Linked DNA regions of Homo sapiens: region 1 is linked to region 2. A link means that fine-mapping ties the variant in region 2 to the expression of a gene that starts in the linked region. Tissue or cell type: left ventricle. Region 2 holds a variant in brackets; the other region holds the start of a gene. All regions are shown on one strand. Distances are between the middles of the regions.

The links. PIP is the estimated chance that this variant, and not a neighbour inherited with it, causes the effect. A credible set is the group of variants that fine-mapping cannot tell apart.
Region 1: it holds the start of ZFAND1, and the variant in region 2 is the best candidate, but not a certain one, in a credible set for the expression of ZFAND1 in left ventricle (GTEx, PIP 0.74).

The regions. Positions count from the first base shown.
Region 1 is chr8:81,719,568-81,723,816 of GRCh38, reverse strand. ZFAND1 (zinc finger AN1-type containing 1) reads left to right here and starts at 2,517. Exons shown (of 8, transcript NM_024699.3): 1 at 2,517-2,590. The coding sequence starts at 2,536. RefSeq lists enhancers at 2,562-2,611, 2,539-3,483 and silencers at 2,782-2,851, 2,882-3,021.
Region 2 is chr8:81,640,812-81,645,060 of GRCh38, reverse strand. No RefSeq gene overlaps it. Among named protein-coding and RNA genes, the nearest start is that of IMPA1, 43 kb to the left of the region's middle. The variant G/A (reference allele first, on the strand shown) is at 2,475.

The DNA.
Region 1 (4,249 bases), 79 kb before region 2:
ACACATGAGGCATTTTTCCCCTCTTAATTTTAATTTTTAAATGTTATTCTTCAGCAATCATAACTTTTTTTTAAAGGGTGGTCACAGTCACTGAGGATAACTACAGAGACTAAGTTCTTTTTTTTTTTTTTTTTTTTTTGAGATGGAGTTTCTCTCTTGTTGCCCAGGCTGGAGTGCAATGGCTTTACCTCGGCTCATTGCAACCTCCTCAGGTTCAAGCGATTCTCGTGCCTCTGCCTCCTGAGTAGCTGGGAATTCAAGCACGTGCCACCACGCCTGGCTAATTTTTGTATTTTTAGTAGAAACGGGGTTTCTCAATGTTGGTCGGGCTGATCTTGAACTCCCGACCTCAGGTGATCCACCCGCCTCAGCCTCCCAAAGTGCTGGGATTACAGGTGTGAGCCACCGCGCCCGGCCTAAGAGACATTTCTGAGGGAGAATTGACAGTGTTTAATGGCTACTTCCATGAGAAGTAAGAAAGGAGAGGTGGAGAATAAATCCAAGATTGATTGATTGGTTGAATGAAACAAGTATGTGGCAGGCTGCCTTTGTTAGAAAGGGGATGATATGGTAGGAAATTATCCCATTTTGGGCTTAAGACACCATGACAAATGAATGCACATAGATAGATCTATCAGACAGTTGGAAATAGTTACTTCATGTTTGGTAAAGTGTTCTCAGGGCTGAGAATATGGGTATGAGAGTCTTTAATATGGAAGCCATGGGAATTTCACTTGCATGAGGATGTAAATTGATAAATGGACCAAAGACATAAACATAGTGAAATAGATGTGTTTAAGCAGCACCTAGAGAAGAAATCAGCAAAGGAGACTAAATAGAGAAAGCAGAGGTAGCAACTGCAATCTTGGCTACGCTAATCATCTGATGTTCTATGAGGTGTCCAATAACTGAAAAAATAAAAACATATCCATAATAATTGGACTGATAAAACATATATTTGCCACCTATCTAGAACATTCCAAACACCTAGTAAAATTCCAGGAAACCTGTTATTGATTGATCTGATCAACTTAAACATAAAATCTAGGTAAGCCACTGATCCCTAGATCCAAGAATACCAAAAGTCTTTAGTACTTGCATTTTTTGTCCTGGTTCATCCACTAATGTGAGCCAATCATTTAATGTCTATGAACTGGTTTTCTCATCTTAATAAAAGAAAAGCTATGGAGGCTGGGATAGCCAGATGACATCTTATAAAGTTTCTCCAGAGACTCAAGCAATTCTGAGACGGAAATCTTAAATAGATTGGCTCAAGAGCAAATGCAGAAGAAATGATTCCCCTTTCCTAGTGTCACCCTTCGCCCTTCCTCAGTGATTATTGATTGGGAATCTCCAAAGGTATATAGGAGGCATCGAATACTTTTCTAGTTCCTGTCAGGAGTGCAGGTGATTGTCACCCATCCACGCTGAATGGTGCCTGGCATCACGTTGGTGGAATGGCATTCATATGTACCCCACCCAGAAGTACCTCTCCTTCAGTACCTTTGCAGTGGCTCACCAGGCACCTGATACTCCCCTACATCCCAGTGGAATCCCATAAGCTTTCTTCAGGTAGTTGTGCTAAATGAGTCTGGGTTCTCTGAGGAACTCTGTAAGGTTCAGTACACATTCAGGGGCTCAGGAGTTAAGACTTTTTTTTTCCCCCTACCAGAATTTAAAAAAAAAAAAAAAAAGGACAAAGATAAAGAAATATTAACTTTTTAAAAAGCCTGATGACTGTTTTGCAAGGGGCATGTATGTTACACTACATAATCAAGTAACACTGGTTGAGGGATGGCTCAGGAATTGAATAACCCATGTCTGTCTCTTTTGCTTGATTATTGCAACACTGTGTGCCCGGCACTGTTCTGGTTCCTGGAGTTCTACTAACTTTTAAAAAAATAAATGTGAAGCCGTTGCTGATTTTCGTGGCCGTATGCAGGGAACCGCGGTAAGCAGTCGTCCAGAAAGGCAGGTGGGCATTTCTTTTTCATTTTCTTTTTTTATGTTTTGAGACGGAGTTTCGCTCTTCTTGCCCAGGCTGGAGTGCAATGGTCCAATTTTGGCTCACTGCGACCTCCGCCTCCCAGGTTCAAGCGTTTCTCCTGCCTCAGTCTCCCGAGTAGCTGGGATTACAGGCATGTGCCACCACGCCCGGCTAATTTTGCATTTTTAGTAGAGACGGGGGTTTCGCCACACTGGTCAGGCTGGTCTCGAACTCCTGACCTCAGGTGATCCGCCCGCCTCGGCCTCACAGGGTGCTGGGATTACAGGCGTGAGCCACCGCGCCCGGCTGCAGGTGGGTATTTCTTTAAGGACTAGGCGAGAGGCCTTCCGCTCCGAGAAGAACACTCACAGAACAGTGGCCTTTCCTGGTCACGGCGAATGCACCTAGGACAAATCGCACAGCTGGTTTCCAGGCCCCGCCCCCACCTGTAGACTCCGCCTCTGGGTCCGCCACTCTCCCGTCAGGCGCCGCGCGCGCTCATTGCCCCGCCCCTCAGGCTTTGCCCCGCCCCTTACGGCGCCGGAGAGATGGCGGAGTTGGACATCGGGCAGCACTGCCAGGTGGAGCATTGCCGGCAGCGAGGTGATCCGGGAGCTTCCAGCCCCCATCCCCGGCCGCGGGAGACCAGGGCTCCGCTTTGGCTCCGCGGATGGTGGCGGCGGGTGAAGGGAGGCCACAAGGCTGGGCAGGGCCTGAGGAGCGGGGTGGGAGCGTTTCTTCTGGGGCTGCAGTGAGATCGGTTGGTGCGGGTTTTTTTTGGCCGTGAGCTTTTGAAATGACGTGTGGTCTCCTTGGAAGGAAGCCATGCAATTCCTGAGGCAGGGCCTGAGGAGCGGGGTGGGAGCGTTTCTTCTGGGGCTGCAGTGAGATCGGTTGGTGCGGGTTTTTTTTGGCCGTGAGCTTTTGAAATGACGTGTGGTCTCCTTGGAAGGAAGCCATGCAATTCCTGAAAACGTACCTTGCAGTGTTCATTTTGGTGTTCGAGTGTGCCGTGTCCGAGCAGTGCACGAAGCCCACTGCTGGATCGCGTGGCTCACACTTACTCTGCTGAGCGCGGGTATGGGGACGCGTAGGTTTGGTCTGGGACTGTTGTCTTTTGGCTTTGCCACTGCGACCTACGGCCAGCTACTTTCCCATACTTTTTTTTACTTATCTGTTACGTAGCTGTCAGGAGGAGTTGGGGGAGGTCAACTCGCCCAACTAGTGTTCACGTGGATGTGTGTCCGGAAGAAGGCCCTTCCTTAGCTTTTATCAAATTCTCAAAGGCATCCTGATCCTCAGATTATTCCACCAAATGGTCATCATGCTCTCCCAGCTCTGTCATTCCCTGATTCTCATTATTATTGTTTGAACAAACATTTACAGATTATTGATTTTGGTGCTTGGACCACATAAGGGTGTAAACTACAGTCTTTTACACGGAAGACCTTTCCAACTAGTAAGCTGCATTTTAGAGAGAATTAGTTAATAATATGGCAATGGGCTCTCCCCATTGCACTGAGAGACCTTGGGATATACCTAGTCCAAGGTGATGTGGCATTGGCTTCAGGATGCCATACACCTTGAAAAGGCAAGTTTTTGAAGCATTAGAACCACACAGACTGCTCAGTCGTTGTTACTAGGTTTCACACACTACATAAGGTAGCAAACAGGTTTAATCTCCCCTTGGAACTTCAGTCATTGGTATCAAGTGCCTGAATTACCGTGTCAAAGACTCTTGAGATTTAGCCCAGTTTCAGTGGAGTTCCATAATTGATTAGTGATTTCTACTGTGGGAATGCGTGATAGGACAGGTGACACAATCCCTTCTAGGTTCTTGTTACTTATAGCCATCTATCTATCTATCTTTCACCACTGGCTGTAATAACAAGCCAGTGTGACTTTTTTCATGTGGAAGCTTAGCCATTTGGGTTTTGACTGTGAATTATGTGTGTCTATGCCTGATCCTTCGCTAGTGAGTCCAATACACATTATATGCCATTCATGACATAGTTCATTTTCCTTTCCAGCTATATATGTCTTTAGTGTCAATAACTGAGATGAGGCCAGGCCTATCTGTTTGGGACTAGTGGAAAGCAGTTAAGATTTAGACTACGTCAAGTGTATATCCTAAATTTTATCTACCTTCTGGAGGGATTGAAGGATGGTATCAGGTGCTGGGAAGTTGTCTTGACTTAACTCTTTCCCCTGGGTCCTTCTGGTTTGCATCTAATACTTGATTATTAAAAGTCGCAAAATATT
Region 2 (4,249 bases):
GAAGGGAGAATTAGGAAGACTGAGATTTTTCTGCTGAGGTGATAGTTGACACTATGGGAAAAGAGGTGATTGCAGAAGTGCAAAAGGATGAGATCAGAGGTAAAAGATCCTCCTTAGAGGATCTTAGTGTGGATCCATCCTCTTGAAGAAAGGCTTGTCAGGGAGGTTGTTATGTATAAAATAAAAATAGTGACTGAGGCTGGGCACGGTGGCTCATGCCTATAATCCCAGCACTTTGGGAGGCCGAGGTGGACAGATCACTTGAGGTCAGGAGTTCGAGACCTGGCCAACATGGTGAAACCACATCTCTACTAAAAATACAAAAAATTAGCTGACCATGGTGGCAGGTGCCCGTAATCCCAGCTACTCAGGAGGCTGAGGCAGGATAATTGCTTGAACTGGGAGGTGGAGCTTGCAGTGAGCCGAGATAGAGCCACTGCATTCCAGCCTGGGCAACAGAGACTCCATCATAAAAAAATAAAAAATAAAAAATAAAAGTGACTGAAAGCATTTAAACCCACCAGGAACTGATATCTTGACCTAAGATGTTGGTTATCAATTAAGAGCACAATTTGACTATGGAGAAAACAATCAGGTGACACGAAGGAAGAACTGCAAGGAATCAATTGGCAAATTTATCTTTCAAAACTCGTCATACAGAAAAGACTTAACAAGGAGAGGAGAACCACCCCTGTGATTGTAATAAAGTTTGGATGACAGGCTAGGCCTCCCGATTTGTGATATTTGGGATCACCCTGTTTGGTTTTATTTTTATAACTATTGTCCTGAAGTAACCTTTGTTCTGTTTCCTTCTTTTGGTTTGTTTTACTCTGTCCAGTGTAATAGGAGCAAGCATAGATAATTCCCCTTTAAAATATAAACCTAAATAATAGGTTAAGAGAGAGCCACCATAAAACCCATTCCTGCACCTAGTAATTTATCCTGCTTGTTCCAGCACTGGAAGTTGATCCTGTATTTTTACCTGGTGATTACCTGGGCAGGGCTACAACCTGAACAAACATTTATTCTAGCCAGAAAACACTTCAAATGGCAAGATGACTCTTTCAATATTTACTAATCTGCTATTAGCTTAAGCCAGTACACTCATAATGACTTTCAAACATACGAAGAAAGGTTAATAAATCTGAACGACAGCTATCGTACTCTTAAGTCACCAGGTTAGTGGCAAATAATGGTATAGAGCATATAATGATCAAGGAAATAACTACTATAAAATACATAACAAAATATTACCATGGAAATGAACCCATTTATACTGGCATGAGAGGCTACTCACAGCAGGTTTCTCAGCAAGTGAAAGGGAAGCTCAATTCTGTCCAGCTCCACTCTCCAGCCCAAGAGCATGAATGGCCCTTTAAGGGGAATACATTCCTTCATGGGTGAAGGCACTTTGGCTTCTCCCTGTTTTCTCTAGTGGTAAAACTCAGGAGAATTGGCAAAGGAGATTCTGCTTAAAGATTTTTTTTTGTTTTTTTTTTTTTTTTTGAGGTGGATGGAGTTTTGCTCTTGTTGCCCAGGCTGGAGTGCAATGGCGTGATCTCGGCTCACCGCAATCTCTGCCTCCTGGGTTCAAGCGATTCTCCTGCCTCAGCCTCCCGAGTACCTGGGATTACAGGCATGCACCCCCATGCCCAGCTAATTTTGTATTTTTAATAGAGATGGAGTTTCTCCATGTTGGTCAGGCTGGTCTCCAACTCCTGACCTCAGGTGATCCGCCCACCTCGGCCTCCCAAAGTACTGGGATTATAGGCATGAGCCACTGTGCCGGCCAAAGATTTTTAAATCTTCTAAATAATCAGATCTTGCTCATTTTAGACTCATTTTCTTTTCCTACTCTTTAAAAAAGTGGAACCGACATATAGCTCTGAAATAATTCAATTGAGCCATCCAGTAAGGGGTTGCTTCCTGTTTTCTGGACACTCATGCAGGCAGTAGAGACATTGGTGAGAAGGGCTTTGGTGTCAATTAGTCCAGAGTTCAGCTCTCTGCTCATTTATTTCATTATCCTTAAGTCATTTAACCAGATATTTCTGGAGAACCCAGTGGCAGGTTTCAGGTCCCAGGGTTATGGTGATGAACAAGTAGATACCGTCCCTGCCCTCATGGAGCATACACTTTAGCTGCAGGGGAAAAGTTTTTAAATACCGTAATAAAATTCAAAACAAGGCCACAAGTTTCGGATTTTCTGTGTGATCTTTGGCAAGTGTCTTAGCACCTGAGTTGTTGTCTTCTTCTTCTTCTTCTCCTTCTCCTTCCTCTCCCTCTTCTTCTCTCTTCTCTTTCCTCTTCTTCTTCTTCTTTTTTTTTTTTCCTGAGACAGAGTTTTGCTCCTGTGGCCCAGGCTGGAGTGCAATGACACAATCTTGGCTCACTGCAACCTCTGTCTCCCAAGTTCAAGTGATTCTCCCACCTCAGCCTCCCTAGTAGCCAGGATTACAGGCACCCGCCACCAC[G/A]CCCGGCAAATTTTTGTATTTTAGTAGAGACAGGGTTTCGCCATGTTAGCCAGGCTGGTCTCGAACTCCTGACCTCAGATGATCTGCCTGTCTCAGCCTCTCCAAATGCGGGGATTACAGGCGTGAGCTGTCGTGTCCAGCCTAAGCTCCTCAGTTTTTAAACAGGGTTCTTGGGCATTCGATTCAATAATAATTGCAAATAACTATGTGGTCTGGTATGTAGGAACCACACAATGATCATTATCTGATATTGTTTTAAATTTTACAATTACAGGATTTCAAATTGTTTTGTTCACTCACTGCTACATCCCAAGTGCATAGAGCTATGCCTGGCACATGGCAGGCATCCAATAAATATTTGTTGGCTGACTTTAAAGATGAAGAGAACCATGATGGCACAAAAAGACAATAACGGAGATGAAATTAAACCACAAGGAAAATTCATACACTACTTGATGGAGCCTTTGTAAATTTAACATAACAAAATGTTTCTTCTTCTTCTCCTCCTTCTTCTTCTTCGAGATTGTGGTCTCACTCTGTAGCCCAGGCTGGAGTGTAGTGGGTGATGGGATCATGGCTCACTGCAGCCTCAACCTTCTGAGCTCAAGCAATCCTCTCGTCTCAGCCTCCCAAGTAGCTGGGACTACTGGCATGTGCCACCACACCTGGCTAATTTTTTAATTTTTGGTATGGATCGGGTCTCACTATGTTGCCCAGGCTGGTCTGGAACTCCTAACCTCAAGCGACTCTCCTGCCTCAGCCTTCCAAAGTACTGAGATTATAGGCATGAGCCACCATGACTTGACTCATAGTGTTACATTTTTGGGGAAATCCAAGCTAGAAAACAGAATTAGTGCTCAGAAATTGAACTCATAACTAGCCCTAAGTGAAAAACTCAAATACTTTCTTCTCCATCTTCATCCACTAGAGGGCGTATATTACTTAACACAAGTCAGCCTTTCCCAAGCACGGCAGAAGCTGTTTTAAAATGATGATTAATGGAACAACGAGTAGACCTAATGACCTATCCTGTACATTTTGATTTAGGCAGATGGTTAAACTAAATGGTCTCAGATAAAAAATAAATAGTATCGAAAAGAAATGATGAAAATGTGATTCTTATATTTCCTCAAACTTTGTAATAGAAGAATAAACATTAAAGAAATTACATCAATTTCTTTTTTCAAACATTTATTTGTCATAGTCATTTTGTTTATATCCTAACTCAAGATAATTCAGTTAAAATGTACTTAAGAACAAAATCATGAATAATATTAACATATTTCGGGACATTACACCAGTAACGTGCCAGCAAGAGTATAGTTTTTCATTTGAAAGAAGCTTAGCAGGTGCCAAAGAATAATAAAAAATTAACTGTACAAAATGACATTTGTTTTAAGGGGATCATTATGTGATGATTTTACTTGGATCATATTTGTCAATCTAAACATTTATGATATGGCTGAAAAAAACTGAGGAATAAAAAAGTCCAAAACACCTATTTTAATTTGAAACTTGTTTCTAGAGATTGTTTTTTCCCCCTATTTTGGTAGTGGAGCTTTAATCAGTTAAACCATAAGATACCTCCTCTTTAGTCAGGCAGTTGTTTTATTCAATTCTGTGGGAGGAGGAAACAGTAAAATTCAAATTTCACTGGGGAACACTTTAGACTGAAAGAAAGGATTCTTCTCCTCTATTAAATATTTTACATCCTTAAAAATGAAATTGTGACTGGTCACCAGAATGGACACTTGCATTGAATAAATATGTCAGAC